Regions from separate parts of the Homo sapiens genome. Here regions 1 and 2 are each linked to region 3. Evidence: fine-mapped expression QTL. A gene starts in region 3. Each other region holds a variant in brackets. All regions are shown on one strand. Distances are between the middles of the regions. Region 1 overlaps OR9Q1 (olfactory receptor family 9 subfamily Q member 1). Region 2 has its middle 74 kb from the start of CTNND1. Region 3 holds the start of MED19 (mediator complex subunit 19).

Region 1 (8,186 bases), 430 kb after region 3:
GTTTTGTAATCAGAGAAGGGTGGTCCATTGCTGGCAATTTATGTCTTTATTTTCTATTAGTTGTGGCCAAATGATGTATGCAAGTACATATGTACAGTTACCTGATTCCCAGAATTTCTGCTGAAATGTCACCTTTTCAGTGAGTCTTTTTGATGGTCTTAATATCCTTATCCTTACTTTGATACTTTTAATTCCTCATACTCTGCAGCATTTTTTTCACAGCACTTACCAACTTCCATCATGGTAGAAGAATATATTTCTTCTTTTTTGAACATATATATGCCAGGCTCCACGAGAATGAGCATGAAGGCAGGACCCTTTGTTTTGTTCCAAGCAACTAGAAAAGTGCCTGCTACATAGTAAGTTCTCAGTAGATTCTTATTAAATAAATAGATGAATATAGCCTCTTTTTCCCTTTGGCCAGGATGATTTACAGGAACTCCTTTTAAGAACATGGCGAATCATTGTTCTGGGAGAAGATCAGGGTAAGATTTGGCCTTAAGTATAGAAAAACAACCTAAATATTTACCCTATCAAGAATTCAGTGGGGGAAAAAACTCCCCCCAGTTGCTGAACATTATTCAAAAATTAGATCAGCTTTTGCCAAACATTGATCAAGGTTTTACTTTATTCTTTATCTAAAGTCCTATGAGATCTTTTTCAAATTCAGTTTTTGTTTCAAGGATGGAAAGAGGACAAGAAGAATCACCTCTGAAGTCCACATTCACTATGTTCATTACTCTAAATTATCAAGATTCAAAGGCACAGAGATAGTATTTTCCCAATACCTGGCGAGAACCCCATCTGTATTAGAATTCAAAACTCAGTGTGCTGGCTTTGTCTGTTAATGAGTTTTGCAGGCTAATTGTGGAATAGCTTGATTCATGTATCTCACTGATTGATAATGAAGTGGCATTAAAAAAACTAGGACAGATCCTTTGGAATAAGAGGAGAACTTGGAAACCAGGCCATGTTGCTTGGCAGGAACAGAGAGGAAGAGGCGACTTGGCAGGCAACAGGCTATAGAGGTCCTAACAGTGTTTGTTCTTTATGGCTCACTGTCTGGCATACAAATCCATTGTGCATATATGCACATCAGAAACAACCCTAAAGAAAGGTGGAGTTGATGTTGGAACTCCAGGTGGCTGTGGACTTAAGATTCCACAATGTATATGAACCTAAGAGCATGTCACTCATATTATCTCAGAATTTAGTAAAAATAATTCTAAGTGTGTGTCAGACCATGTGCAACATACTGTGTAAATTATGTCCTTTACAATAATATTATAACTTTGGCATTGTAATCCTCATTTAACCAAGAAGGAGGCTGAAATTCAGAAAGGTTAATTAAATTGCTCAAGGTCTGAAGGTATTCAAACCTACACCTTATTTCAAAGCCCATGTCTTTTATACTACACCACTAGGATTTCTTCAACAAAGTGCTTTTTTCCTCCACAGGAGGCTGATTAAGTTTTCTAATTTGGGACCTGTCAGAAGTTTTGGAAGTGCCTAAGGAAATGATGTCTAACCTAGGCTTTGCCTATTTACCAATTGTGAAATCTGGGTCACTTTACTTCTTTTGCCCTCATATTCTTCTGTCAAAAATAGGATTAACAATATGTGTTTCATGCAGGAACAGAAAACCAAACACTGCATGTCCTTACTTATAAGTGGGAGATGAACAATGAAAACACATGGACACAGGGAGGGAAACAACACATACTGGGGCCTGTTGGGGAAGGGCTGTAGGCGGGGGGGTGGCATTAGGAAAAAAAGCTAATGCTTGCTGGGCTTAATACCTAGGTGATGGGTTGATAGGTGCAGCAAACCACCATGACACACATTTACCTATGTAACAAGCTGGCACATCCTGCACATGTACCCCAGAACTTAACAAATAAAATAAAATAAAAATAAAAACAATATGTGCTTCGAAGGATTTCTGAAGGATCAAGTAAAATAAAGTTTGTGAAAATGTAAAGTGCTTTACAAATCTAAAAGATTATTATAATTAGTGAGCAGTGATCAAGTCAAGCCATTACTGCCTTAATTTATCTTTTATTTTATTTTATTATTATTATACTTTAAGTTTTAGGGTACATGTGCACAATGTACAGGTTTGTTACATATGTATACATGTGCCATGTTGGTGTGCTGCAACCATTAACTCGTCATTTAACATTAGGTATATCTCCTAATGCTATCCCTCCCCCCTCCCCCCACCCCACAACAGTCCCCGGTGTGTGATGTTCCCCTTCCTGTGTCCATGTGTTCTCATTGTTCAATTCCCACCTATGAGTGAGAAAATGCAGTGTTTGGTTTTTTGTCCTTGCGATAGTTTGCTGAGAATGATGGTCTCCAGATTCATCCATGTCCCTACAAAGGACATGAACTTATCATGGATTAAGAAAATGTGGCACATATACTCCATGGAATACTATGCAGCCATAAAAATTTATCTTTAATGAGACTTTATTATTATTATTTTTTAATTTCAGTGGATAACGTTGGCTTCATGGCAGAGAGTGGCACCACGGTGACAGAATTTTTTCTGAGGGGGTTCCGGTTGAAGGCAGAGCTGCAGATAGGTCTCTTCTTTGTGTTTCTGGTCATTTTTCTCATCACCATGGGGGGCAACCTGGGCATGATTGTGCTAATTTAATTCAGACTGACCCTCGGCTCCAGACTCCCATGTACTTCTTCCTCAGTCATCTTTCCTTCCTGGACATTTGCTACTCTTCTGTTATTGGTCCTCAGTTGCTTGAGACTTTGGGACTGATAAGATGATCATCACCTATGAGCGCTGTGCCAGCCAATTCTTCTTTTTCACACTCTGTGCTAGCATTGAGTGTTTCCTTTTGGCTGTGATGGCTTATGACCGGTACGTGGCTGTGTGTAACCCCCTCCTCTATGCCATAGTCATGACACCAAAGACCCGCCTGGCGCTGCTGGCCGGGGCATATTCTGGTGCCATAGTCAATTCTGTGATCTGCACTGGCTGCACCTTCTCTATCTCCTTCTCTAAGTCCAACCATGTAGACTTCTTTTTCTGTGACCTCCCACCCCTGCTGAAGCTTGCCTGTAGTGAAACCAGGCCACGGGAATGGGTAATCTACCTCTCAGCTTTTCTGGTCATCACAACCAGCATTTCAGTGATTCTTACATCGTACTTGTTCATCATTCAGTCTGTTCTGAAGATTCGTACAGCAGGTGGAAAGCCAAGACCTTCTCCACCTGTGCTTCTCACATGACTGCATTGACTCTCTTCTTTGGAACACTCATATTCATATACCTGAAAGGCAACATGGGCGAATCCCTTGAGGAAGACA[A/G]GATCGTGTCAATATTTTACACTGTGGTCATCCCCATGCTAAATCCAATGATCTACAGCCTGAGAAACAAAGACATGAAAGAGGCTCTGAAGAAAGTTTTCAACAGGATAAGGGTTTCCCAAGCAGAGTAACTCTTGAGCCCCATCAAGCCAGAAGTTTCTGCAAATCCTGCTCTGGGCTTTTGTCTCGTCCTCTTAACACATGAGCCAGATCTCATAATTACAAAGACATATTGAGGCAGAAAAAGTTGGATTTGGGTTCCAGTACTTTCTTTATTGGCTTTATGATGTAGAGCCAGAAATGATCCACTTTAGTTTTCTCATCAGTAAAAATTTCTGCTTTGCTATGGGTAAAGGTCAAGAGATCTTAAGCCAGGATCAAGGGAGAGGGAATCCCAAAAGGCTTTGTAAATAATAACATGCTACAAAATATAGATTTTTTTTCTTATCTGTCCTGCGTATTGTGGAGCATTTTCTCAGCTATTCGGATTTTTTTCTATTAAGCTCATTTTTGTGCCTAGCATGATTACAAAACAGTAACTCATTGTTTATATAGTAAGGGGCAGTCACATTTTTGGTTGTGGATCATAGTGTGGATATCAGCTTTGATGAAAGAAAACTTTTCTTAACATTCAGTCATACCCAATTTAGGATTTGTCATAGAAAATAAAAGCAACTAAACAGAAGAAGAAAAAATAAAGAAGGGAAAGGAGGTGTGTTAGCCTGCTTCCCAAGATGGCATAGAGGTCTCAGACACTGTGGAAAAAAGAAGGATGTAATGATTTGCATTAATTATTGGAAACAATTTGATCTTGATGTAGGGCTGAAGTGAGTCCCATATATAACTTTGTAATATTTCTCGATCACCAAAGGTCAGAAGCTCTATTTTATTTCTGAAGCATTGTTCATGGACCATCTGCCTCAATTAACTCAAGTTATTTCCTATTCTTCAGTAATGAAAACCATTATCTACTTTTATCTCCTTTAGGACATTTACTCTATTGTCAGAAGACAGATAACAATGAATCTGACTGCCACTTTTTAATGACTTCCTCATCTGCTAGAAATATTACCTGGGAAATATCTCCATGGAGACCTCACAATTTTATTCATCAATTCAGCAAATATATGCTATCTACTATGTATCAAATATTAAGTTTAGAATATTTTAAGTATGTATTATATCTACTATGTATCAAATATTAAGTTTAGAGTAATAAATAAGATAGATATGGTTCCTTCAGCATGGAGATTAGAACTTGGGATATAGATAATCAACCATTGCACAGTTAATTAATTAATTATTAATTTTTACAATTTTGCAAAGTGAAACAAAAGAAGCAGCACAGGGTGTTATTATGCTATATAATAGGGTTCCAGCCTAATTTGGTGTGGTCAGAAAAGGCTTCTGAGAGAAATTAACGTTTAAGCAGAGGCTTCAGGAATAAGTATGCCATAGTCATGGGTTGTGAAGACTCTTCTAGACAGAAAGAATTGCAAATGCAAAGGTCTGTGAAATGGGATGCCTTGAGGAACTGGGATTGGCTGTAGCATGAGGGAGCAGGGCTTAGTGTGAGATGCAACTGGCGAATTCCATAGAAACTGTCACAGAGCCTTGCAGATTTGCTTGGGGACTTGTGGACTTTATTTCAAAAGTAGAGTGCGAAATGATCAGATACGAATTTTTAAAAGATTCCTTTGGCTGCAGTGTGATGAGTGGAAAGGACGCTGGTGGTGGTGGAGTTGGAGGGAAATAGAACCACTTTGTCTATGAAACAACAGTTGGTGCATCCCAGTGCATGGCATTTGATTTCCATGCAATACTGTATGCTTCATTCTAGGACACATGTTATGTTAGAGAAAGCTAGCAGGTGCATGGCTTTGATGGTGGTTTAGGACTGATTCTTGGCAAAGTGGCAAAATTAGGGAAATATGTTTTTGGTGATGCCCACCTTTTCATTGGTCCACTCTTCCTTCCATAAAGTGTGACCTTTCTCAGGTAGACACAGGTATACACTATCTGTCCCTTCATCAAAATGATCATCAACTACTCCTTCTTAAGGGATCAGCATGTTTTCATTAACCTCCTACCCTGTGCCAGACTGTGTTTATGAGCTTAAGAAACCACCCCTTACTGGGCTGCTTCTGTGCTTAAAGGCAGGAAAAGTCTTCAAATGTAAAAACAAAGAAATGAGTAAAATGCTAGACAGTGGGGGTTTGCTATTTTTATAGTGGCAGGAAAAACCTCATACCCCTCCCAGTTTCTACTTTGTGAGTGGCAACCAATTTTGCCTATAAATGAGTGATCTTTGATACATCCCCAGTATTTTATGTTTATACAATTGCCTTATGTATGCACCAAGTGGATAAAAATAAAATGAAGTTTTAGTGTGTTTTAGGCAATTATCTTCTGATTAACGTAAAAAAACACTGGGGAATGGTGTATGTTGTATTGCTATTTACATATATTAATAAATGAATAAAAACATTCATAAATTACCTAATGTGTGTCAGATTCTGTGCTGAGTTTTCACTTATCTCATTTAAAGATTTCATTCTTAAAATAAAAAAGTCTCATTCTTAAAATAGATTCTACACATATTCTCTTAGAAATAGAATTCAGTCAGGAATTCTGGCATTGTTTTCTTTTTTTCCTTCTCACTTCTGAGTGTATTTCTTTTAAGAACTAGGCTTTGGAATTATACATTTTTAGCTATAATATTTTGGCCTCAATTTACCAACAATGATATTGGAAAGATGAAGAAAGCAGATCCTCAAAGTCTCAACTGACCCATTAAAATCAATTCACCAAGAGGCCAAAGTACTATGTTCTTGATCACTTAGAGCGACACCAAAACTTTAATTATGGATTTGTATTTTTCACATATATTAAGTTGATTGAGTGTAGGTGTAAATCTAAATTAACTAGATTATCAGCATGAGGGCATGGGTCTAGTGTAGAATGATGGAGTGTAAACCATACAACACGTAATCTAGGGCCTTTGGCAGAAGTGTGTATATATATATATATTTACTTTTTGTATATGGGAATGCATTTTGTCTGAGGGAGCCACAGTGCTTCAGATAAGAGCAAAAACAACCACACACAATTTTTCTTTTGTCATGAAGATCAATACAAGATGGATAGAAATACTTACCAGATTTCTTTTTTTCCTCCTTGCTCCAATTCTATTTGTCTAAGCTACAGGGAAGAGAAAATGCCATCAAAGCCATGTGCAAATGACCACAAGAACAGAGCTGCCCAAGCCCCAATGCCACCATCCCCATGGTTCTCCCATGCCTTTTTGGTGGCTATGGGGCTAAAGGGCAAAAAAGAAATGAAGCATGTTTGGTTTGAAGGTTTTTCCTGGTGATGGAATTCAAAAAAGGTAAGGCAGCTCTAGTTTTTGAATCTCATTTTGCCTGATGCTGAATTCAAACCTCAAACTAAATTTTCTCCTGAATCTTACTTAGATAGAGAATGTGGAGAGGATAAATCACCAGAGAAATTGGGGAAAGCCGATAGAAGTTGAAAAGAAAGTGGGCTGTCGGCTTCCCTGTAGCGGATCTGCGAAGTTGCTTGTGGAGATCAAGATGCTTCATGGACATTATACAATTCGTCCTTTTGGTCCTGTTGGGAAAGAAACTCTCAGCTATTTCCACTCATCTCTTCTTCAAAAATCGTGAGGTTTTCTGAAAATAGTTGAAAAGAACATTGTGTCTTTTTCTTTTTCTCAACATCTTTGTTCTTATTTAAAACATAATAGTGAAACACAAAAATAAAAAATGACAGCAAGAGCAGCAAAAAAGTGCTTTTGATCTTGTAATAGAATGAATATCTAAACTCTTTCTAATTCTACCCTTACTAAATATGCTTCTTTGGGTATTAAAACCCCTGAAAAAAGCATTGTAAAAATAGCCTGTTGACATCTGTTGTTTTATATATAGACAGAGCCTAAAATATTTCATTCATTAATTCAATAAATTAGCTCTTTATTGAGGAGCTACTATATGCTGGGAACTCTGTGTGGGTAGGGACTTTGCTCCTCACTGTATTCCTGGTGTGTCACTTAGGACTTGGCACATAGTTGGCACTTAACTAACTTAAAAAATTTCCTCTTGATTGTTTAAAGGCTTCTTTGGCAATAAAATACACATAACATGGAAACTTAAGTGGTTAAAAAAATTTACCATTTTAACCATGTAAGTACACAGTTTGGTGGCATTAAATATATTCATATTGTCTTGCAACCATCACCACTATCCTTCTCCAGAACTTTTTTCATCATCCCAAACTGAAACTCTGTACCCATTAACTCCCCATTTCTCTCTGCCCCCCTGCCACTGGCAATCACCATTCTAGTTCTGTTTCTATGGATTTGCTTCTTCTAAGTACTTCATAAAAGTGGAATCATATAATATTTGTGTTTCTGTGTCTGGCTTCTTTCATTTAACACAATGTTCTCAAGGTTCATGCATTTTGTAGCACATATCAGAACTCCACTGCTTTTTATAAATCAATAATAATCTATTGCATGGATATGCCATATTTTGTTTATCTGTTAATCTGTTGGTGGACACTTGGGTTGTTTCTACATTTTGGCTATTGTGAATGCTGTTGCTATAAATGTGGGTGAACAAAGATGTGTTCAAGTCCCTGTTTTCTATTCTTTTGCATAGTGTATACTACTTAAAAGTGGAATTGTTGGATCATATGGTAAATCTATGCTTAACTTTTTGAGGAACCACCTACTGTTTTTCACAGCAGCTGCACCGTTTTACATTCCCACTGGCAATATATAAGAGTTCTAAGTTTTTCACATGCTCAACACTTGTTTCCCATTTTTTTGGTAATAGC
Region 2 (8,186 bases), 120 kb after region 3:
CTCCTCAGGCTCAGGCGATCCTCTCATCTCAGCCTCCTAAGTAGCTGGACTACAGGTGCATGCCACCATGCCAGGCTAAGTTTTGTATTTTTTTTGGAGAGACGGGGTCTCACCATGTTGCCCAGGCTCAGGCTGGTCTTGAACTCCTGGGCTCAAGCAATCCTCCTGCCTTGGCCTCCCAAAATGCTGGCATTTCAAGCGTGAGCCACCCTGCCTGGCATAGTTAACTTTTTTTAATAAGTAGGAGGAATATACTCAAAATAATAAAATATAGTAAATACATAAACCAATAACATAATCATTCATTATTATCAAGTATTATGTACTGTACATAATTGTATGTGCTATACTTTTATATGGCTGACAGTGCCGTAGGTTTGTTTACACCAGTATCACCACAAATACATGAGTAATGCATTGTGTTATGATACTACAACCGTTATGATGCCACTAGTGATGGGAAACTACTTCATACAGATGCTAGGGCCTAAGGCTATTCCTGTCTTTGAGGAGCTCTGATCCCAGGGATGAAGGCAGTAAATTCATTAATGAGGTAAGCATTACTATAATGATTTCTTTTTAACATTTAGAAGATGGTTGACTTCTGCCAGGAAGGAGGGCAAGGCTTCACTGAGGTGACATTTTGGTTCGTTTGAAAGGATAATTAGGATTCCATCAGTTGGAGAAGGTGTGAAGTCATTCAAGTCAGATAGAATAATGTGCAAAAGTACAGAGGTATAAAAAGAATGCTGTTCATTAGGTGTCCACATAGGCAAGAGGAAGTTTCTCTTTATAGAAACATTTCATCTCATAATTGAAGGTGTGATTGAAATATAATATTATCATTTTGCAATCCCTAATAAAGGGATCTTAGGCATTGAGCATCAACAGCTGCTAACATCACAAAAAGAGATCTGTATCACCTATGAAGTAGTTTAAAAAAATATCAAGCCTGAGTCTGATCAAACTTGTAGATCCAAATACTATTTTATAGGAAACACAGAAGATGGGGGCAATGTTTAACTATACCATAAGGATGTAACTAGCAACATGGGAGGAATTACAAATGACCCAATTTCTTTAATAAATTAATTGCAAGAAGAAAAAAAGTGGAGACAGACCTATAGATTAAAAAATATCAGTCTCAATGCATGCGTCTTATTTGGATTCTAACATAAAGAGGACATTTTATGAGACAATTGGAAATTCGAATACTGGATATTTGATGTTACTCAGGGATTATTATTTTTAGATATGACAGTGGTATCATGGGTTATGATTAATTCATTGTAAATTCGAGCAATGTACTGAAATTTTAATGGATAAAATGTTATGATGAGGAAATTTGCTTCTAAGTAGTATGGGAGAAGAGTAGATGAGGCTATAAGTGACACAATTGGCTATGGGTAATTCAAGCTGGGGTATGGGTACACCAAGTTTCATTATAGTATTTTGTTTGATTTTTCTGTATATTATTTAAAATTTAAAATTAGAATTCCCTGTAATAAGTTTTTTAAAAATGGTATATTTGGGATCTAGTAGCTCCATGTGGCTGAGGCACAGGGACATACAGGGCAGCAGGATATGGGACTATGAAGGGAGTTAGGGTCTCAGGGGTGGTGCTTGGGCTATAAAGTTCTTTTCATGCAGGCAAATGAGTTTCACACCACCCTGGAGACCTAGCGTTCTGAGGTGGAGCCTCTGGAGCAAGGATGGGGGACAGGAGCTGAACAGAGGGGATACTAGGATATTTTAACAAGAACAGCTTTGCTTCTAACTTTTATTAAATTGGGCTTCCAGGTAATATTTTGTTTAAAAACGGGATTCTGAGGCTTCAAAAAATTTCTCTGTAGCCATTGAGAGAACAGTTGAATATTTTAAAGACCGTCACTTGAGCCATAGTGCAGAAGATTGGAGGTAGGGAAATCAGCTGGGAGGCTATTTTAATATAGCTGGGAGGCAAATGAATAAAGCATTTGTTTTGAGAGGAATTTAGCCAGTGAAGATTTGGTCCCAGGAGGTAAACCTTTTAAGACAATATTTGTAATTATTATTTCCCAGGCCATACTCCTAGGGAAGACAACAAAGAGGGTGTGGAAATATGCTTACTCCTTGTAACAAGAAAGCCAGTCCTTCTTAGCACCCACTGGGGAATAGGCTGGAACCCTGCTCCTTTCTCTTCTATCTGGCTCTTGACAGAGCACACGGAGAACTATGTCTCCCTTACAACTGTCTCAGCATCTTCTTTGATCAGAGTCTCCAGTCTGTCCTCCTGTGCACCATAACTGATAATTTGGTGAGGTAGGGAGTGATGCCAGCTGTTTGGGTTTACAGTGACCACTTCTATTATTGTTGCTCCGTTTCAACTATAGCTGCTTTCAGTATGCACCACCACATCTACTTGACCGTACTCTACCTTCTTATAGCAGCTTAAACTCCAGAGTGTAAGACCCCAACAACTAGCCATCTCTTCTTCCCTTTTCTGTGAAATCTTAGAGTCTGTCTGACTAGGCAAATCCACTGACTTTCCCTCCTAGTAATCTCCCTCAAATGTAATGTCTCACTGAGCCCTGCGCCTTTAAAACACACGGACACATACTCATGCATCAAGCTGCTAACAGCTAATAAAAATGAACTATTAACATTCCAGACTCTGCTAGGTGCCTGTAATCCTAACACTTTGGGAAGCTGAGGTGGGAGGATCGCTTGAGCCCAGGAGTTTGAGACCAGCCTGGGCAACACAGTGAGGCCCCATCTCTACAAAAAACCCAAAAATTAGCCGGGTGTGGGATCACGTGCCTGTAGTCCCAGCTACTCAGGAGGCTGAGGGAGAAGGATCATTTGAACATGGAAGGTTGAGGCTGCAGTGAGCTATGATCATGCCACTGCACTCCAGCCTGGGTGACAAAGTGAGACCTTGTCTAAAAATAAAAATAACATTTAGATCTTGTCTAAAAATAAAAAACATTCCAGACTTGGTGAAAATCATTTAGGTACATCTTTATGTGTCTCTATCCCTCTGGCTTTCAGTCTACAATGTCCTGGTGGGCGGGACGCATGTTTCTTAACCTTGCCTTTGCCCCTCTGACTTGATGCTTGAGTGAAGCCTCTTTAGTTCTTACTTTTTGTGCTCATTAAGATCTTAGCCTTCTTGAATTATGGAACTCCTTGAGAATCTGATGATTGTTACGGACCTGCTCCAGAGAAATGCACACACATAGTATTTTGCCTACAATTTGAGAGTCTCTTGAATTTTAAAGCCGTTGCAATTTAAATGCATCAGGAAGACTTGACAGCAGAGAGTTTCTTGATAAAAATGCA[G/A]TATTCCTTTATTGCTGCTTGTTTGGTTGGTTTAAAAATATGCGATATTTCTTGTCCTACCCTAGCATTTCTGGTGCCAGTATCACCAATTTAAACAATCTCCCTGGTAATTCTAAAGTTCACTAAGATTTGAGAAGTTCTGCCCTAAAGACTCAGCTTGTCTTCATAGTCTATCTCATCTTCTGCTCCCAGCCACTTAACTCCTGCTACAGGGGTTCAAACTCTGGAGTCCTGGTTGTTATCTAAAGGGAACAACTGCCTTCCTGTAGGGCTAAAGTGAAGCCCCTTCATGGAGAAGCACTAGAGTCTGACAGTGGGCCCAGGTCTTCTTCATTTTCAGGTATAGTTCTGAATTCAGAAAGCCAAGTCATGTCCCAGAGAGCTGCACTTCTCTCCTTCTTTCTGTCCATCTCTCATCAATTATTTCTGTACTCACCTTCCCCCACTTCAGACTGGAACTTTCCCTCTTCTGGAGTTGTTGCTTTCCACCATACAAGATGTCTTGTGCTTCTGCATGTTGGCATCCAGGTGTATTATTATTCCTGTGTGGTAGCCAGCGGTGCAGACTTAGAATGCCTTGTAAGTGCCTCTAAGTAGGATATAGTAAAAAGGTTTGCAGAGTTAAGCTTACATCCCAGCAGGTCCAGGTACTTCTTTGAGGTACAAAACTGATGACAGGGCTGGGCGCAGTGGCTCACGCCTACAATTCCAGCACTTTGGGAGGCCGAGGTGAGCAGATTACTTGAAGTTAGGAGTTTGAGACCAGCCTGGCCAACATGGTGAAATCCCATCTTTACTAAAAATACAAAAATTAGCTGGGTGTGGTGGTGCATGCTTGTATTTCCAGCTACTTGGGAGGCTGAGGCAGAAGAATGGCTCAGGAGGTGGAGGTTGCAGTGAGCCAAGATTGTGTCACTGCACTCCAACTTGAGTGACAGAGTGAGTGAGACTCTGTCTCAAAAACAAACAAACAAACAAACTGATGACAGAGCAGAGAAGGTCGTATTGAGTAACTTAATTTATTATTTTTACTAGCTATAAACAATTTAAAAAATGTAATAATTGAAAATAATTTAGAAAGTTCAGAAGGGGCCAGGCACAGTGGGTCATGTCTGTTATCTCAGCACTTTGGGAGGCTGAGGTGGGAGGATTACTTGAGCCTAGGAGTTCAAGACCAGCCTGGGCAACATAGTGAGATCCCTGTCTCTACAGAAAAATAAATTAGTCAGGTGTGGTGGCATGTACCTGTACTCCCAGCTACTTGGCAGACTGAGGCAGGAGGATCCCTTGAACCCAGGAGGTTGAACCTGCTGCATAGCTAGGGTGACAGAGTGAGACCCCATCTTTAAATAAATAAATAAGAAAGTACAGCAAATGTTTTTTTTTTTTTTTAAGTGGAGGCTAAGTCAATTATAATCCTAGTTTTTTAAGTAGAGGCTAAGTCAATTATAATCCTAGTTCCTGCCATCCAGAGGCAACCATTATTAACATTCTGGCATCCTTCCATCTAGTGTTTTTCTATTTTTTAAAAAATAGAAATTATACAATATATACAACACAGTTACCTGCTTTTCTTTGCCTAACCTTGTTTTATAACATTTCCCAATTAATGCTTCAAAATCGTATTTTCTTTTCATGGCTGCATGATATTTAATTAAATAAATATACCATTATGTAACTTTTGCTCAATTGTTGGATACTTAAGTGTAATACCTATGTATAGTATTATAAATATGCTGTAATAAACATCTTAGTACCTAAACTTTTTCTTCTGGATTTTTTCCTTAGAAGAGGAATTGCTGGGTTAGAAATTATGAACATTTTTAAGACTCTTGATATACAGTACTAAATTATTTTCCAGAAAGATTAGAGTATGTAGCCTTTTCAGATTGGGTTCTTTTACTTAGAAATAGCATTTAAGGCTCTTTCCTGTCATGTTATGGTTTGATAGCTCATTTCTTCTTATTGCTCAATAATATTCCATTGTATGGCTGTACCATAGTTTATCCATTTACCTGGATAAACAAATCCAAAAACATCTTGGGTACTTCTAAATTTTAGCAATTATGAATAAAGCTGCTGTAAACATTCACGTGCAGGTTTTTGTGAGGATGTAAGTTTTCAATTAATTTGAGTAAATACCAAGGAGCATGATATGGTATGGATTTGTGTTCCCACCCAAATCTCATGTCGAATTGTAATCCCCAGTGTTGGAGGAGGGGCTTGGTGGATGGTGATTGGCTCATGGGGGTAGAGTTCCCCCTTGCTGTTCTCATGAAAATGAGTGAGTTCTCATGAGATCTCATTGTTTAAAAATGTGTAGCACCTCTTCCTTCACTGTCTTCCTTCTGCTCCAGCCATGTAACATGTGCCAGCTTCCCCTTTGCCTTCCTCCATGATTCTAAGTTGCCCGAGGCCTCCCAGAAGCAGAAACCTGTACAGCCTGCAGAACCATGAGACAATTAAACCTCTTTTCTTTATAAACTACCCAGTTTCAGGTATTTCTTTATAGCAGTGTGAGAACAGACTAGTACAGAGCACAATTCCTGAATCATATGGTCAGCCTGTGCTTAGCTTTGTAAACTGAAATTGCCTTTTCCTCCAGCAGTGAGGAAGAGTTCCTGCCGTTTCCCATCCTCTCCAGCACTTGGTGTAAATGTTTGTGTTTTGGATTTCAGTCGTTCTAATAGGTATGTAGTGGTATCTCGTTCTTGTTGTTTTCTCTCTCATCATTGCCTTGATTTGCAGTCTCCTAATTATGCATGGTGCTGAGCATCTTTTCATCTGCATATCTATCATCTTTATATCTTCTTTGTAAAGTTTTCAGATCTTTTGCCCTTTTTAAATTTTTTTAAATTAAGTTTTTAGAGTTCATATATTTTGGATACCAATCCTTTATCAGATAAGTGGAATTTTTTTTTTTTTTTTTTTTTTTTTAAACAGAGTCTCGCTCTGTTGCCCAGGCTGGAGTGCAGTGGCGTGATCTCGGCTCACTGCAACCTCCGCCTCCTAGGTTCCAGCGATTCTCATGCCTCAGCCTCCTGAGTAGCTGGGATTACAGGTATGTGCCACCATGACTGGCTAACTTGTATTTGTAGTAGAGATGGGATTTCACCATGTTGTCCAGGCTGGTCTCAAACTCCTGACCTCAGGTGATTTGCCCGCGTGGACCTCCCAAAGTGCTGGGATTAGAGGCGTGAGCCAATGCGGCCGGCTGTTTTCCAGACAGGGTCTCACTCTGTCAACCAGTCTGGAGTGCAGCCTTGACCTCCTGGACTTAAGGGATCCTCTCGTCTCAGCCTCCTGAGTAGCTGGGACTATAGTCTCACTATGTTGCCCAGGCTAGTCTTGAATTCCTGGGCTTGAGCGATCATGCTGCCTCAGCTTCTCAAAGTGCTAGGATTCCATGTCTTTGCTATTGTGAATAGTGCTGAGATGAACATACATGTGCATGTGTCTTTATGATAGAATGATTTTTATTCCTTTGGGTATGTACCCAGTAACGGGATTGCTGGATTGAATGGTAGTTTTTTATTTTATTTTATTTTATTATTATTATACTTTAAGTTTTAGGGTACATGTGCACAATGTGCAGGTTTGTTACATATGTATACTGTGCTGCACCCATTAACTCGTCATTTAGCATTAGGTATATCTCCTAATGCTATGCCTCCCCCATACCCCCACCACACAACAGTCCCGGGTGTGTGATGTTCCCCTTCCTGTGTCCATGTGTTCTCATTGTTCAATTCCCACCTATGAGTGAGAACATGTGGTGTTTGGTTTTTTGACCTTGCGATACTTTGCTGAGAATGATGGTTTCCAGCTTCATCCATGTCCCTACAAAGGACATGAACTCATCATTTTTTATGGCTGCATAGTATTCCATGGTGTATATGTGCCACATTTTCTTAATCCAGTCTATCATTGTTGGACATTTGGGTTGGTTCCAAGTCTTTGCTATTGTGAATAGTGCCGCAATCAATCTAGATGCCCATCAACAGTGGACTTGAAAAAGAAAATGTGGTACATATACACTGTGGAATACTACACAGCCATAAAAAAGAACAAAATCATGTCTTTTGCGACAACATGGCTGGAGCTAGAGGCCATTATCCTGAGAGAATTAATGCAGGAACAGAAAACCAAATACTGCATGTCCTTACTTACAAGTGGAAGCCAAACACTGAGTACATGTGGACACAAAGAAGGGAACAATAGACACCAGAGCCTACTTGAGGGTGGAGAGTGAGAGGAGGGTGAGGACTGAAAAACTACCTATTGGGTACTATGCTGATTAAATGGGTGACAAGATTATTTATATACCAAACCCCTGCAACACACAATTTACCCATGCAACAAACCTGCACATGTATCCCCTAAACCTAAAATAAAAGTTGGAAAGGGAAAAATGTCAATAAATAAATAAACTCAATGTTCATTTAGAAAAAACAAAACAAAACAAAAAAACAAACACAAAGTGCTAGGATTATGGGCATGAGCCACAGCACCTGGCCCATCAGATAAGTGTTCTACAAATATTTTCTTTCGGTCTGTGGCTTGTATTTTCATTTTTGTAACTTACAAACTTCTAAATGATTGAGTAAATCAAGAAGGAAAAGATAGAGTACACAGGCATTAAAAGTTACCTACATAAACAAAATAAGATATTCAAAAAATGGCAAAATATTTTCAGCAGATATGACAAATCATTAAATGTGTTCATTATATGAAAAGCTGATATATACATATACGTATGTCATATATATACATATATGTAGCCAGAAGACTTGAACAGATAATTAATAAAAGTGGTTATATAACAAATAAATATGTGGAAAATTGTTTACTCTTGCTAGTAATAA
Region 3 (8,186 bases):
TTATAATCATTCACTTGGGAAAACTGAGGTACTGAACTGTAAGCTCCTTGGAGGCACAGACAATGTCTTGTTCATTCATGTATCGCTAGTGCCCAGCACAGTACACACATTAGGTGCTTAATAAATATTTATTAAATAAACAAGGCACTTTCCCTCTATACCTCTAGGCCTTATTCATCCTTTTCCTTCCCTTTACTACCAAACAACTCAGAAGACTGAGCGAGGGTAATGGCAGGAGACCCAATGTCACAGTATCTCTCCTCATAACTCTGGGCACTGCCTCTTGCCATTACAATCTTCTGAATTTCCCCTGCTCTGCCAACTCTCCTCTGTCCAGATGGTTATCCTTAAGGCTCAGGTGAGAAGGCAGTCTGTGCTTTTTCTAAACTGTAACTTGAGAGTTCAAATTCCAGTTTTGACTATTCTACAAAGATTACTTTTTATATTTATTTATTTTTTGAGACAGTCTCGCTCTGTCACCCAGGCTGGAGTGTAATGGCACAATCTTAGCTCACTGCAATCTCTGCATCCTGGGCTCAAACTACTTTCCTGCCTCAGCCTCCCAGGTAGCTGGGACTACATGCATACACTGCCATGCTAGGCTAATTTTTGTATTTTTTGTAGAGACAGGGGTCTCCCTATGTTGCCCAGGCTGGTCTTGAACTCCTGGACTCAAGCTATCTGCCTGCCTCAGCCTCCCAAAGTGCTAGGATTACAGGCGTGAACCACCCTGCCCAACAAGATAAAAAAAAAAAAAATTGTTTTGAAATTCCAAATCTTGCCAACATCACTCAGGGCTTCTCTATTTCAATCCATGGCACCCACATGTTCCAGATATTTTTGGAAATCAGTACTCCTCAGTTCACAAATCTTAATGGTTTCTTTTTGCCCTCAGGAGAAAGCTCAAATTCCTTTGACTGGCACTCAAGGCTAATTACATCTTACTCCAACTTAGCTTTGGGGCCTCATCAACCACTACTCTCCTATGCAAAATTTCTGATCCATCCAAATGGATCTCCTTATCGCCTCAAAAAAACACCCCTCACATTATTTCATCTTAGGAAAATTCTTCCTAATTTTTCTTCACCAATATGGATTATTCAAGGTCTAGCTCAAGTGACATCTTATTCTCACTGTCATTCTGGATAGCAACACACTTTGAAAACCATTAGGTAGTTCTTAATATTGATGGCTAAGATATTGTTAATTGCTGTTGTGAGGCATGAGCACAAAATGAGATGGAGGTGACAGGAAATATAGTCACTATCCTTAAACCACAAATTTTACATTCCTAACTAAACTCCTTGAAAAGCAATGACCAGCATTACTAATCTCTCTCTCCATCTCACCCGCCTCATACACCCAGCATTTGCCCAGAACATATATTCAATATCTGTCAACTGACTGATACAAATAGCTACAATCAGAATAGGGAAGGCAAAAGAAAGATTAAAAGAAACCGCTGGTGGACATCAACCACTAACTAATCAAAGGGATGTCAACTTCTCCATGTTTCAGTTTTTTCAATTATAAAATGTAGACAGTAATGCTACCTCAAAGGGCTATTCTAAGTATTAAATACTACTTATATTAAATACTGCATGTAAGTGTGTTGTGAACTTCAAAGTACTATACCAATATTTGTTGCTATTTCCCTCAAGTCATGATGTGGAAATAAGACTTGAGACAATGAAAGGCATCTGGGAGGCTGGGCGCAGTGGCTCACGCCTGTAATCCTGGCACTCTGGGAGGCCAAGGTGGGCGGATCACCTGAGGTTGGGAGTTTGAGATCTGCCTGACCAACAGGGAGAAACCCTGTCTCCACTAAAAATAAAAAATTAGCTGGGTGTGGTGGCACATGCCTGTAATCCGAACTACTCGGGAGGCTGAGGCAGGAGAATCGCTTGAACCTGGGAGGCGGAGGTTGTGGTGAGCTGAGATTGTGCCATTGCACTCCAGCCTGGGCAACAAGAGCAAAACTCTGTTTAAAAAAAAAAAAAAAAGAGGCATCTTGGAGACCAAACATGTCCAAAATAACTCTTGATTTCCACCTCTTCAAACTTGTTCCTTCCTCATCTTCCAAGTCTCCGTACCCATACACCCAATTATTCAAGCCGAAAACTTAAAAAGGCATCAATTCCTCTATTTCCTTCACTTCTATATACAATATATATTTTTAATTGAGACAGGGTCTTCCTCTATCATCCAAGCTGGAGTGCAGTGGCACAATCATGGCTCACTGCAGCCTCAACTTCCTGGGCTCAAGTGATTTCTACCACCTCATCTTCCTAGGTAGCTGAGACTACAGGTGCATGCTGCTATCCCTAGCTAATTTATTTTTATTTTTTGTAGAGATGGGGTCTCATTATGTTGCCCAGGCTGGTCTCAAACTTTTGGGCTCAAGCAATCCTCCCACCTCAGCCTCCCAAAGTGCTGGGATTACTGGCGTGAGCCACAGCGCCTGGCCCTGTATTCAATTTTTCAACCCTGTCAGCTCTACCTCTAACATCCTGTATCCATTTACTTCTCTATGCCCTGCTATGCTCTGGTTCAAACCATTATCTTTCCTGGACTACTGAGCAGTAACTTCTGACTAATTTCCCCACTTTCTATTTGTCATGTGGCTGCTTAAATGATTATAAACAAGTGCATTTGACCAACTTCCTATGTTAAAATGGCTTTCCTTGGCTGGGCACAGTGGCTCAGACCTATAATCCTAGCACTTTGGGAGGCCAAGGCGGGAGGACTGCTGTTGGCCAGGAGTTCAAGACCAGCTTGCGCAACACAGTAAGACCCAGTCTCTACAAAAAAATTTTAAGTTAGCCAACTGTGGTGGTGCATGCCTGTAGTCCTAGCTACTTGGAAGGCTGAGGTGGGACGACAGCATGAGCCTAGGAACTGGAGGTTACAGTGAGCTATGATTATACCACTGCAGTCCAGCCTGGGTGACACAGTGAGACCTTGTGTCTATAAAAAAATTTTTTAAATGGCTTCCTTTTGTATTTACAATCTAAATGCCTTTACTGCTTTATAAAAGCCTCTGCCTAACTCTCCCAGCTTCATCTCTCTCCCTAACACTCTTTCCTTTTGTTCACTTCACTGGAGTCCAACTGATTTTCTGTCCCTCAGATATTCTAAGCTTTTTCTCACATCAGGGTTTCTGACCTCATTTCTTGTATCTACAATTGTCTCTCCCTCCTGTCCATACATGGCTGGCCCTTTGTCTATGCTTACATTTTAGTTCAAATGTTAGCTATGTGAAGAGAGCATCTCTGGCCACTCTAGCTAAAGTAGTTCTGCCCCTCAATTTTTTTTTTTTAAGAGACAGGGTCTCATCTGTTGCCCAGGCTGGAGTGCAGTGGCACAATCTTGGTTCACTGCAGCCTCGACCTCCTGTGTTCAAGCGATTCTCCTCCCTTAGCCTCCTGAGTAGCTGGGGCTACAGGCATGCATTACCACGCCCGGTTAATCTTGTATATTTTGTAGAGACTGGGTCTCGCCATGTTGCCCATGCTGGTCTCAAACTCCTGGGCTCAAGGGATTCTGCCTCGGCCTCCCAAAGCGCTGGGATTACAGGCGTGAGCAACGCGCCTGGCCACCTTCAATTTTTATCATGTTTTCTTTTCCTAGCATTAACCACTTTCTGACATTATCTTGTTTACAATGCCTCCTCCACTGAAATGTACATCCCAAAAAAGGCAAGCATCTTGTCAGTCTTGTTCACAACTGTCTCCAGCATTTAGAAAAGTGCTTGGTACATAGGTACTCAACAAAATAATTTTTTGAATGAAGAGTTTGGTTCGATTCTTATCCCTTTTTTGATCAGACCAGGAAATGCCGGAACCTTAGAAGGAAGAATGGCAACTTGCCCCAAACCAATAGCAAGTCTGTGGGAGACCTGTAACTAAAACTTTGGGTCCCCAAAGATATTAAATCAGGCCTCTCGAGTTCCAAACTCAAACCCTGGATTTTGTTTGTTTTGAGACGGAGTCTCGTTCGCCCAGGCTGGAGTGCAGTGGAGCAATGTCGGCTCTCTGCAACCTCCGCCTCCCGGGGTTCAAACGATTCTCCCGCCTCAGCCTCCCGAGTAGCTGGAATTAAAGGTATACGCCACCACGCCCAGGTAATTTTTGTGTTTTTTGTGGAGACAGGGTTTCATCATGTTGGCCAGGCCGGTCTCGAACTCCTGACCTTAGGTGATTCGCCCGCCTCCGCCTCCCAGAGTGTTGGGATTACAGGCGTGAGCCACCGCGCCCAGCCCTAGGTCATTTTTTAGAGAGACATAAACCAGTGTCAGGGACACAGCCTGGACATGGTGCAAAAGACAGTAACGGAGATGCACTACGCCCCTGCCCGCCATTCATCCCTTTGGTTGAATTCAACTCATCCTGGTTGAATTCAAGTCATCCCTCTGCTTGTGAATCCTAACAGCGCTTCCGACTTAGGGCTCCACAGTCCGGGTATGCGTTGCCTAGGTTACCTCGCACCTCCGCTAGCCGGCTGAGAGCCACGCCCATCACCTCCTCTCTAAGATTTGATTGGCTGGCTTTGGCAAGGCCGAGTACTCACCTGGCAGTTCCCTCATGAGGTAAAAAGGGCCACAGCCAGCTCCTGACTTGTCCGCGCCAGGAGGAGCCGTGGCCGCGGTGGGAGGCGGGGCCGTGCCGGGTCCCCCGCCCGCAGGAGGCGGTGGCGGGGGTGGAGGCTTTCCTGGTCCGAAGCCGAGTGCGGTTGGGGGCGGTGGTGGGTCAGCCTGAGCCCCAAACAGTGCCGTGAAATTCTCCATCGTACCCTCCGCCCCGGCGCTGTCTCCGTGTCTGCCGTTGGTAATTTTCATTGGACAATGCTTTCAAGGAGTACCCCCCCGCCCTTTCTCAAGGAGCCGCTTGTCATTGGATGCCTCAGGCACCGCCTACCTTTTTTCAACAACTACTTCCGTCGCCTTATGAGAACGTTCAGGAAGTGCTATTTAACCTTATTAGAGTCTTCTGCTAGCTCTGCTTGCTACAGTCCAATAAAATGACTTAGGCGGATAAAGCGACAACTAGACTAACCAATAAAATATTAAGTTCTTTTTTGGGTTCTGACCTACCACAGCGTTCAGAGAACTACATCCGGGTTTAGAGGCCGTACGTTTGCGATATAGCCCAATAGCAGTCGTTATGGTGGGGGAGGCGGGGCGAGACCTACGACGCCGGCGAGCAGTGGCCGTTACGGCCGAAAAGATGGCGGTCTTGGCACCTCTAATTGCTCTCGTGTATTCGGTGCCGCGACTTTCACGATGGCTCGCCCAACCTTACTACCTTCTGTCGGCCCTGCTCTCTGCTGCCTTCCTACTCGTGAGGAAACTGCCGCCGCTCTGCCACGGTCTGCCCACCCAACGCGAAGACGGTAACCCGTGTGACTTTGACTGGGTGAGCCTCCCGCGTGTTAGTACCCCGCGACCTTGACTGTCCCTGCCCTTGCAGGTGTATCTGGGAACCCTGGGGTTTACCTCTCTGAGGACACCTGAGGTTCCGAGCCTGTAGCGGACTTAGAGACTATTAAGTGCAGGGTCCGAACCATCATCGAGTCTAAACTTTGTGTTTAAGATGGGAAAACGGAACATGTTAGTCGTAGCCCATGCACAACGGCCCAACAGCTTTTGACTGTTGAGTCCAGGTTTCTTTCTGTTTCACCATTGAGACTAATTAACAGCCCTATCAAAACTGTACATACACGTGTATAACGTTTTACAGTGCCGCTCATTATGTAAAGCCTCCTGAGGAGCCAGTAAGGTAGACAAGGCAAGTAGTAATATTCCTGTTTCATTGGTGAAGAAATGGATCTCGGTATATTTAGGTGACTTGCCCCAGGTCATACAACTAATGAGTGCCTGGGACTTGAAACTACTCTTCTGGCCACACTACCTGCACAACACTGTCAGCCGCTTCTTAATTCAATAAACATTTCTAGAGTGTACACTCTAGGCACTCTGCTTGATCCTGAAGATGCGAAAGTGGATAAAATTTGGGGGCTACTGTAAAGGAATTGTAAAAAATACGTTGTAAAGAAATCTTTGGGATTTCTTTGGGAAGTGTCCCAAGCTCCTTGCTGTGCTTCCTTGGTATGGGTGGAGGGACTGCTCGGAACATAAACTTAAAGCACTTTCCCTTCTGCCATATAGCATGTAGGGGCCAAGGAAAAGCTTCCCCTTTGCTCTCTGAGGGTTTGTTGAAAAATCAACCGACAAAGGGCACATTAATAGGAGAAAGGCATAGAAATTTTATTTTAACGTGCATAGCATGAGGGAATTGCAGGAGAATGACCCAGTGGGGTACAGATGCTTATATACCCTCTTTCATAGGAATATGGGAGATGGGAAAATGTGGGTGATTTTAAGGTGGATCGTAAATGATTTTTAGGGTGATTCAGTGGCCTGGAGAACATACAGTGGCCTGGGACAATGACTGTTGGGCCTGCAGAGCAGACAATGGTTTCTGACAAAAATCTGTCCAGGTGTGTTGACAGGCTTCCATCTTTCTTCTTGTACTGAAGTAAGTTAATGAAAACTCAGGGAAGAGACCAGAAGTAATTGTTGTCTTCTTTGACAGGTCTGGACTTTAGGCAGATAAGGTAGTTATCAGAGTAAAGCTGCTTCCAGTATCTGCTGGTTTCCAGGGACCTTTAATTTAAAATGATTAGCATACAGGATGCCATATTTTGGGGTGTGAGTCCCTGGTCTTCTTTATTTCCTTTGTCTGAAACTTCCTTAGAAGTTTCACTATAAGCTGAGTTGGTGTCTGTGGAGAGAGAAATCGGGCTAGTAATTGAGCGGCAAAGGATCCCATTAAACCAGCCTCTCATTTTGGGGGATAGTCCAGTTCAATTAAATTGTTGTGTCTCATTTCAGAAGATGGCATTGTAGATGAGTTCTCAAAGCTAGGCCTCTGTATATGATGTAGGCAAACAGGTATTTAATAAGAGAGACATTTCTATGGAACAAGACAAACAAAGCTTAATATCTGGTATAGTCTATAAACTAGTTTCTTTAGAGTCTGGAGGGCAGTCAATTGGGAAGATTAATAGCAATCTATTTTCCTAGATTGTAGGTTGTGTGTAAAGTTTGTCCAAATATAAGCTTTTGTGGTGATTTTTTTTTCAAAGTCACGTTGACTAGCTTTAGCTGGTAAGGCCTTAGGAAAAAGGCAGGGTTTTTAGTTTTTTGGATTTTTTTTTGAGACAAGGTCTTGCTCTGTCATCCAAGCTGGAGTGCAGTGATGTGATCATGGCTCACTGTAGTCTTAACCTCCTGGGCAAAGCCATCCTGCCACCTCAGCTTTCCAGGTAGCTGGAACCAAAGGCATGCACTACACACCTGGCTAATTTTTAAAAATTTTTTTTCAAGGTGGGGTCTCTTGATGTTGCCCAGGCTGGTCTTGAACTCCTGAGCTCAAGGGATCCTCCTGACTTGGCTTCCTAAGGAGCTGGGATTTACAGGTGTGAGCCACTGCGCCAAGCTAAAAAAGGCCGTTTTAATTTTTAGTGATTCTAAGTCAGAAGAGTGGGTGAAAAATGGAAAACATTAGTCTGGAGGTTAGCAATTTTATGAGTCCAGTTTTATTTTCATTAGACTTTGGAAATTTTTACCCAGTCCGGTGATACAGTTTCAAAGTTATCAGAAACCTTTATTTGTCAGCATTCTTCCCATGCTTTCCATGATCCTCCTTGAAAATAAGACACTTGGCCAGGCATGGTGGCTCACATCTGTAATCCCAGCACTTTGGGAGGCTGAGGCGGGTGGATTTCCTGAGCTCAGGAGTTCGAGACCAGCCTGGCCAACATGGTGTAACCCCGTCTCTACTAAAAATACAAAAAATTAGCTGGGTGTGGTGGTGGGTGCCTGTAATCCCAGCTACTCTGGAGGCTAAGGCAGGAGAATCACTTGAACCTGAGAGGCAGAGGTTGCAGTGAGCCAGGATCGTGCCATTGCACTCCAGCCTGGGCAACAAGAGCAAAGTTCTGTCTCAAAATAAATAAATAAATAAAATTAAAAAAATATATTTTATATATAATATATATGTATTAATGTGCTTTTAATACTAAAGCTGATTTTAATAAACTTTACAAACAAATCTGTCTAATCTTGATCAGCTTTGACTAGACAAGATAAAATTTCCATAAACCTTTTATAACCTCTTAGAATT

The links. PIP is the estimated chance that this variant, and not a neighbour inherited with it, causes the effect.
Region 1: its variant is fine-mapped to the expression of MED19 in whole blood (TOPMed, PIP 0.93).
Region 2: its variant is fine-mapped to the expression of MED19 in whole blood (TOPMed, PIP above 0.99).

Annotation. Positions count from the first base shown.
Region 1 is chr11:58,141,965-58,150,150 of GRCh38, forward strand. All of the region lies in intron 2 of OR9Q1 (olfactory receptor family 9 subfamily Q member 1), which reads left to right. It also overlaps the pseudogene OR9I2P. Among named protein-coding and RNA genes, the nearest start is that of OR9I1, 21 kb to the left of the region's middle. The variant A/G (reference allele first, on the strand shown) is at 3,330.
Region 2 is chr11:57,831,517-57,839,702 of GRCh38, forward strand. No RefSeq gene overlaps it. Among named protein-coding and RNA genes, the nearest start is that of CTNND1, 74 kb to the left of the region's middle. The variant G/A (reference allele first, on the strand shown) is at 3,322.
Region 3 is chr11:57,707,394-57,715,579 of GRCh38, forward strand. It overlaps MED19 (mediator complex subunit 19), which reads right to left and starts at 4,822. Exons shown (of 5, transcript NM_001317078.4): 1 at 4,570-4,822. The coding sequence starts at 4,786. TMX2 (thioredoxin related transmembrane protein 2) reads left to right here and starts at 5,200. Exons shown (of 8, transcript NM_015959.4): 1 at 5,200-5,414. The coding sequence starts at 5,226. TMX2-CTNND1 (TMX2-CTNND1 readthrough (NMD candidate)) reads left to right here and starts at 5,130. Exons shown (of 21, transcript NR_037646.1): 1 at 5,130-5,414. RefSeq lists a silencer at 4,453-4,792 and an enhancer at 8,160-8,186.